3 separate regions of the Homo sapiens genome follow, and regions 2 and 3 are each linked to region 1. The links come from fine-mapping of genetic effects on gene expression. A gene starts in region 1. Each other region holds a variant in brackets. All regions are shown on one strand. Distances are between the middles of the regions.

The links. PIP is the estimated chance that this variant, and not a neighbour inherited with it, causes the effect.
Region 2: its variant is the best candidate, but not a certain one, in a credible set for the expression of PLEKHB1 in whole blood (TOPMed, PIP 0.68).
Region 3: its variant is the best candidate, but not a certain one, in a credible set for the expression of PLEKHB1 in whole blood (TOPMed, PIP 0.58).

Annotation. Positions count from the first base shown.
Region 1 is chr11:73,645,012-73,647,752 of GRCh38, reverse strand. PLEKHB1 (pleckstrin homology domain containing B1) reads right to left here and starts at 1,172. Exons shown (of 8, transcript NM_021200.3): 1 at 1,127-1,172. The coding sequence starts at 1,144. RefSeq lists enhancers at 1-53, 689-1,607 and a silencer at 94-313.
Region 2 is chr11:73,835,894-73,838,654 of GRCh38, reverse strand. All of the region lies in intron 4 of MRPL48 (mitochondrial ribosomal protein L48), which reads right to left. Among named protein-coding and RNA genes, the nearest start is that of COA4, 40 kb to the left of the region's middle. The variant G/A (reference allele first, on the strand shown) is at 1,430.
Region 3 is chr11:73,731,824-73,734,584 of GRCh38, reverse strand. All of the region lies in intron 1 of RAB6A (RAB6A, member RAS oncogene family), which reads left to right. Among named protein-coding and RNA genes, the nearest start is that of RAB6A, 28 kb to the left of the region's middle. The variant A/T (reference allele first, on the strand shown) is at 1,487.

The DNA of each region.
Region 1 (2,741 bases):
CTTGATGCACCCACCTTGTCTACACTTGTTGCGGATGTTGCTGCCTAAGCGGCCGCTACTCGATGCTGCTGCCACCCAACCCGCTGCGCCTGCGCTTTGTGTGCCCCGGAGAGCCTGGGGCATTTCTCTCCTCCCGCAGCGCCTGAGAGCCCAGCTGCCCCCGGGCCCCGCCCTCCGGACCTGCCCACCCCAGGGAGGGGGAGTGACGTGAAGAGATGCTGACCCGAGGCGTACTGGGACTTGTAGTCTACCCCTGTAGAGCTGGGCAGAAGCAGCCCCGCCTGCAATTTTACTTTTCTATTAAGACATTTGTTCACTCATTTATCATGAAATACTTTTTCTTAAGAATCATTGAACTCAGTTCCTAGAAAAAAAGAAAAAGTAAAGTTGCAAGGAGAAGCCAAGCTCCTAGTTTTGCATGTTTTTTTGATGCTTCCCCTTTCCATCCCCAGCTTCCAGTCTAGTGAGGGAGATTACATGGAAACACACAATTGGAGCACAAGGTGTGATTTAACAATGGAAAAGATGAGCCTGACTTTTCTCAAGGGGTTCAGGAAGGCTTCCCAGAGGAGGCTGAAAGGGGCCTTGGAGGATGAGGGGCAGTTTCCTAGGCGACCCGAAATTTCCCCTATGAATACTGTCAGGATGTTGAAGAGTGCCCAGCATTTCCGTGTGTCTAGAACATAAAGCGCAGGGGTGGGGAGGGCATCGGGAGTGTCAGGCGATAGAGCTGCAGGGTTTGGAAAGAAATAGCACAGAGGCCTTGCATGACAGGCGGAGAGCTTGGATGTTAGGACGCAGTGACTGGAGCTGGGGGTGGGAGTTTCAAGATGAGGAGTGAGGTGTGTGATTAGGGGGTCGGAAAGGCCCCTCTAGGGCACAGTGAAGAATGGACTGGCGGGAGCCCACCTGGAGAAAGGAAGACTTTCTGTATCTATCACCTCGGACTGTGATCATTTCCTTCAATAGCTCAGCCCCGCAAACCCTCACCTACCAGCAGCCACAGGATGTCATTCAGAGACCAGAGGATGTCAGGGCCTAAAAGACTTCTGTCCCGTCCCCTATGTGGCAAGGGTGCCCACCCTGCCCTGGGCCCTTCCTCCTGTCCCAGAGAACTCTTCCTTACCGGGGCTGCAGGGCTCATGGTTCCTGGGTGGCCAGGGCAGCATTTCCCAGAAGGCTCCCGCAGCGGGGCATTTCCCTGAGCGCCTTAGAGATAAGGGGATCAGGAAGGTGCTACCAAGTGGGAGGCTGGAGGGGGAGGCAAGGAGGGAGCGCACAGATCCCAAGGAAGGTCGCCCTCTTTCTCCAGGCTCCTCCCAGCCTTTCCAACTGATGGCTCTGACCCTAGGTTCACTAGACAAGTCATCCCTGATTCAGAAGTGGTCTTGGCTCAGCATCGCCGAGGTTCCCGGAGTGGAATCGGGGCGAGGTTGCGGGGGCAGGACAGGAACCGGGCTGGTCCTCCTCCCTAGGTTGGGGGCGGGGCTACATCTTCATTCTTTGGCCTGGCAGGACAGCGCCCATCACCCCAGTCCTGGCTGCGCAGTCTGGCTCTTTAAGCCTTCCTCTCTTGCTCCTGAGTCTCTGTAATCCTGACCTCGAGCTACCCTCGCTCCTCGGCCCTTTGTGCGGTGCGTGCCCTGCTGAGGGATTCGCCATGGCCAATCCTATTAACCATTGAGTTCATCCCCTCTTAGCCGACTCAAGAACCAGCTCTCCCATACCGCGTTTTCATCTCTGTGCCTTTAACTCACTCTCTGTCTGGTTCCTGGAACGTCCCAGTCCCAGCTTCTCCTAGCTAAATTTTCCACCTCCACAGTGGAAGGAAGAAAGGAAGCAGTGGGAGGGGGAAAGAGGCAAGGAAAGAGATATGGAAGGAAGGAAAGACAGAAGGAGAAAAGAAGGGAGGGGAAAGACGGGAAGGCAGGTAGGTAGGGCTGCAGCTGGCCTCGGAGGATCTGCGCCTGGGTCCTGCCCCGACCCAGCCTCTCTCCAGCTCTCCCTGCTCCCCTCCCCGATGGGCAGTGGGGCATCCTTCATGTTGAGGGGCGGGGACGGTGCAATCATCTCCTAGATTTCATTCTCTGGATTTAGCAACCAGATGAAAAAGGAAGGTTCTCCAGCAGCAGTGGAGACTTCAGGGGAAGACTCTCCCCTACCTCCCAAAGAGCGGGCACTATGACGAAAAAAAGAGGAAAGGACGTGGCAAACTAAAACCACAGACACTACTACCGAATCTAAACGTAGCCGGACTTGGCCCATGTCTCTAAAAGCTGGTCAGTGACCCTCTTTGAGAAGCCAATAAGGAAGTGTAGACTGTCCTCAGGAAAAAATCTGCGTATAATTCCTGGGAGTTCATAGACCTCTGAAGCCATGATAGTCATGGTTGGATTGTTTTTAATTTCCAGAGCTGTGTAGATGGGAGGAGAGTGTAGATTGACGAGTGAGAGGTATGACAGTATGTCAGGAATTCCAGCCGCAGCAGTCCTGGCTGTGAGAGACTTTGTTTGTTCAATCAACTAAAACTTATTGAGACTAATAAGCCAACAAGTAACTTTTACATTTCTTTGTGGCTATGGTGCACAGAACCATTGGCAGAGAGGAAAAGATTTTGCCATTTCAAGTGTCCCTGGTGAATGAACAGCCCACAGATAATACATTGTTTAGGAAATAGTGGACTGGCTCATCAAATTCAAATTTACTACTTACATTTTCTAGAGAGTATAATATAATGAGAA
Region 2 (2,761 bases), 190 kb before region 1:
GGCCAAATGCAGCAATCAGGACTTCTCATCGTGACAGGCAGCACTGCAGTAAGAGCTGTCTAGAATGCTGAAGTCAGAATGCAATGGAGAGTGGCTGAAATTTTCCAGCAGAGAGGGGAGGAGCTTCTCTGAAGCCTGTAGGAGGCTTTTCTTAACCACAGAAAATGCCAGGACTCTCCAAAGGTATTGCTTTAGGGGAACAAAGAAAAGAAAGCTGATCCCAGTGTCCATCTTGGCATCTCATTTGCTTTCCCATGTTGGCCTAGATCTACCTGAACCAATTCACATTATCAAGATCCCACTGTGATATTACAATACATATTTCAGTTCTGAGCCAGGGCACAGCATAGCCAGCAAGAGCTTAACTGCATATAATACCAGATGCCAGTTTCTGTCATTTTATCTACACAATTTTTCTCACATCCATCCCATTCTCTCAATGCCTACTGATTGAGTTCAGGACTTCATGAATGCCATGAGGAACTATTAAAGATATATCTGTGGGCCAGGAGTGGAGGCTCATGCCTGTAATCCCAGCACTTTGGGAGGCCGAGGCAGGCGGACCATGAGGTCAGGAGTTCAAGACCAGCCTGACCAACATGGTGAAACCCCATCTCTACCAAAAATACAAAAAAATTAGCCAGGCGTGGTGGCGGGTGCCTGTAGTCCCAGATACTCAGGAGGCTGAGGCAGGAGAATCGCTTGAACCCGTGAAGCAGAGGTTGCAGTGAGCCAAGATCATGCCACTGACTGCACTCCAGCCCGGGCAACAGTGCGAGACTCTGTCTCTAAATAAATAAATAAATAAATCTGTGCAAAGGATATACATGAATAAAGCTGTGTTTTGGGAAGCCCAACCTGACTGCACATGAAGGCCAGCCAGGCAGGAAAGGAAAGGAAGTTAGGAGAAACGTAGTAGGGAGGATGGACTACTGTCCATCATCAAACGTTGGCACTCCTATGGCCTAGATTCACTAAGGGATGGCCCAGGATTGTCATTCTTAGGTCCTTGTAGGACTGCACTCTGGTCCCCCAAATAGACTATAGGGTAAATTATGAAACAAGTTTTGTACACAAATGTTCACATTATTACCCCTATTTCACAGACAGAAAACTGAGGTCCTCTGAAGGTAAGTTATTTGCCCAAGGTTACTGAGAAACTTTGCTGGAAAGAGCAGATAAAGAAAGGAATCAAATTAGAATCATAGCCTGTTACAGCCAGAAAGGATCTTAGAGATAATTTAATCTCTCCTTCCCCCTAATTCTACACAAGGGGGAAGTTGAGACCCAGAAAAGGAAAATGGCTTGTGTAAGGTTTAACAGCAAGACAAGGGCAAAGGTAACAACTTTATGTCTATCCAGAACTGGAAGCTGAGTCTGCAGCCCCAAGCCCAGGCTCTCTCCTTTAAAGTGATAGTATCTACCCATC[G/A]CTATAAGTGACATTCTCCAGGGTGAGAAAGTTGGATAAGAATTAATCCATTATCTGAATCCTCAAACAAAAAGGCTGATATGCCTGCAGCATATTCAGCTTCCAGAAATTCTAGTGATGAAAATAACAAAATTTACACCCGAGGATTTGAATGATTTGGGGTTAAGTACTATCAACAGTCCATAATGAGCTGTGAGGTATGCAGCGATTGAGTATGTTTATAACCTGGTGTTATACACTTGAGAGACATATGGACAAAAGGCCTGGCTCTGACTGGGGTAGCAAGGAGGCATGGCCTGATGCTATATAAAGTGCACTAGACTTAGATGGAAGCCACAGAAAATCTGACCTCAAATCCTAACTATCTGCTTAGTCACTACATGACACTGTGTGACCTTTCTAGGCCTCAGTTTCCTCATCTGTAACAGCTAAAGTTATTGTGAAGCTTAATAGAGTGAATTTATATGAAATGGAAATACTAGAGATGTTAGATGAATTCTGGCCATCCTCATTCCAAATATCGGCTCTGAAAACTTCTAGCCACGTGGGCACATCATTTAATCTTTCTCTGAGTCTTGGATTCCTCAAACAGGGTCTTGAATAACCATATGATACTCTAAGGCTTAAATAATATATATGTTTATAAGGCTATAAAATGAAATAATGTCTTTAAAGCCTGGCACATAGTACTTACAGCACCTGGTATATAATAATAAGTGGCATTTTTGGAAGGGCACGGTGGCTCATGCCTGTAATCCTGGCACTTTAGAAGGGTGAGGTGGGAGGATCACCTGAGGTCAGAAGTTCGAGACCAGACTGGCCAACATGGTGAAAACCCGTCTCTACTAAAAATACAAAAAATTAGCTGGGCATGTGGTGGTGAGTGACTGTAATCCCATCTACTTGGGAAGCTGAGGCAGGGAGAATCGCTTGAACCCAGGAGGTGGAGGTTGCAGCCAGGCGCCTGTAGTCCCAGCTACTCAGGAGGCTGAGGCACCAGAATTGCTTGAACCTGGGAGCTAGAGGTTGCAGTGAGCCGAGATGGTGCCACTGCACTCCATCCTGGGTGACAGAGTGAGACCCTGTCTCAAAAAAAGTAAATAAATAAAAATAAAACTACAAAAATTAGCTGGGCATGGAGGTGCACACCTGTAATCCTGGCTACTCAGGAAACCGAGGCACAAGAATTGCTTGAACCCAGGAGGAAAAGGTTGCAGTGAGCCAAGATCGCGCCACTGCACTCCAACCTGGGCGACAGTGAGACCCTGTCTCAAAAAAATAAATTAAAAATAAATAAATAAATGGCATTTTAAAATTATTATTATTTTGAGA
Region 3 (2,761 bases), 87 kb before region 1:
TCCTGAAACCATCCACCGTTCCTCCTCCCCAACTCCCACAGAAAAACTGTCTTCCATGAAACTGGTCCCTGGTGCCAAAAAGATTGGTGACTGCTACTGTAGATTTATCTCCAATTTGGGTTTGCCATTTTTTTTTCTCACTATTAAACTGGATAAACTGGCCAGGTGCGGTGGCTGAAGCCTGTAATCCCAGCTCTTTGGGGGGCTGAGGCAGGTATATCACCTGAGGTCAGGAGTTTGAGACCAGCCTGGCCAACATGGTGAAACTCTGTCTCTACTAAAAATACAAAAACTAGCTGGGCGTGGTGGCGGGCGCCTGTAATCTCAGCTACCCAGGAGGCTGAGGCAGGAGAATCGCTTGACCCCAGGAGGTGAAGGTTGCAGTGAGCTGATATCGTGTCACTGCACTCCAGCCTGGGCGACAGAGTGAGACCCCGTCTCAAAAACAAACAAAAACTTGATAAACTGGGTAAATTCTTCTCCGTTATTAAACTGGAGTTTTTTTCACTTCACAAGGTGAAGTGCCCTTCTTGTCACAGTATATCAGGGGTTCTTGATAGCCACATACATATATACACTTTTTATTGGGAATGATACATATATAGTAAAGTGTTTTACTCTTTGAGAAAAAGATTTTATTTTAAAGTATAACATCCAGTAAAGGGCACAAAGTAGACAAATCTTAAATATATGGCTTGTTGGAAATTTTACTTTTTTATTCACCTTTGTAATGATTAATACCAGCACTTAGAAGATTCCTTGGCTCCCTTTCTCAGTTAGAAACCCCTTACAACTTTTCTTGACTTCTATCAGCATTAATTCTACCAGTTTTGAACGTCATATAAATAGAATTACAGAGTATATATTCTTTTGTATCTGGTCTCTTTCACTCTATGTAGTGTCTGAAATTTGTTCATACAATTTTACATGTTAGGATATTTTGTCATTGTAATATTTCATTTTATGACTATGCCACAATTTGTCCATTCTCTTTATTTATTTATTTATTTTTATTTATTTATTTTTTTTTTTTTGAGATGGTGTCTCACACCCTGTCGCCCAGGCTGGAGTGCAGTGGCATGATCTCGGCTCACTGTAACCTCCACCTCCTGGGTTCAAACGATTCTCCTGCCTCAGTCTCCTGCGTAGCTGGGATTACAGGCGCGCATCACCACACCCGGCTAATTCTTGTATTTTTAGTAGAAATGAGGTTTTGCCATGTTGGCCAGGCTGATCTCAAACTCCTGACTTCAGGTGATCTGCCTGCCTCAGCCTCCCAAAGTGTTGGGATTACAGCTGTGAGCCACCGCGCCTGGCCTAAAATACAGCTGGAGAATTAATTCCAGCAAGGGATGGCTTGATGATTTTTGAAAGACTTGGCTTAAAACAACAACAACAAAAAAATCAATGTAACAGCAGAAGCAGCTTCTGCCAACCAAGACAAGTTTCCAGATGCCATGAAGAAAATAATTGAGGCCAGATGTGG[A/T]CGCTCATGCTTGTAATCCCAGCACTTTGGGAGGTCAAGGCAGGCGGATCATGAGGTCAGGAGTTTGAGACCAGCCAGGCGAACATAGTGAAACCCTGTCTCTACTAAAAGTAAAAAAATTAGCCAGGCATGGTGGCACACGCCTGTAATCTCAGATACTCGGGAGGCTGAGACAGGAGAATTGCTTGAACCCAGGAGGTGGACGTTGCAGTGAGCCGAGATCGCGTCACTGCACTCCAGCCTGGGTGACAGAGCAAGACATCGTCTCGGGGGAAAAAAAAGAAAATCACTGAGGAGAAAGGATAGCTGCCTGAACAGATCTGTTTGTTTGTTTGCTTTGAGACAGAGTCTCACTGTGTCGCCCAGACTGTAGTACAGTGGTGCACTCTCAGCTCACTGCAATCTCTGCCTCCCAGATTCAAGCGATTCTGTTGCCTGAGCCTCCCAAGTAGCTGGGTTTACAAGGCGCACTCCCCCACGCCCGGCTGATTTATTTATTTATATATATTTTTTGAGACAGAGTCTCGCTCTGTCACCCAGTCTGGAGCGCGGTGGCGCAGTCTCGACTCACTGCAAGCTCTGCCTCCCGGGTTCACGCCATTCTCCTGCCTCAGCGTCCCAAGTAGCTGAGACTACAGGTGCCCGCCACCACGCCTGGCTAATTTTTTGTATTTTTAGTAGAGATGGAGTTTCACCATGTTAGCCAGGATGGTCTCAATCTCCTGACCTCGTGATCCGCCCGCCTCGGCCTCCCAAAGTGCTGGGATTACAGGCGTGAGCCACCGCACCCGGCCTTTTAGGTATGGTTCTTATCCTCCCAAAAAGTACATTTTGGGAGTATTGGAGATGTTGATTTACCCAGTTCCTTTCTAATTGATAAGGTTTTTTTTGCATTCATTTTGTATTTTGAGTCTGTGTCAAGCCACTGGCAAAATAGAAAAATAATCAGATATGGTTTTTGCCCTTGGAGAATGTGCTTATTGGTAAAGAAATTGCCAGCATTCCACTACTTTTGACCTCATGACACTTTCATATGGATTAACCTAAAAATATCAATACAGTCCAGACACAGTGGTGCACGCCTATAATCTCAGCACTTTGGGAGGCCGAGGCGGGCGAATCACAGGGTCAAGAGATCAAGACCATCCTGGCCATGATGAAACCCCATCTCTACTAAAAATAACAAAAAATTAGCTCGGCATGGTGGCGTGCACCTGTAGTCCCAGCTATTTGGGAGGCTGAGGCAGGAGAATCGGTTGAACCCGGGAGGCGGAG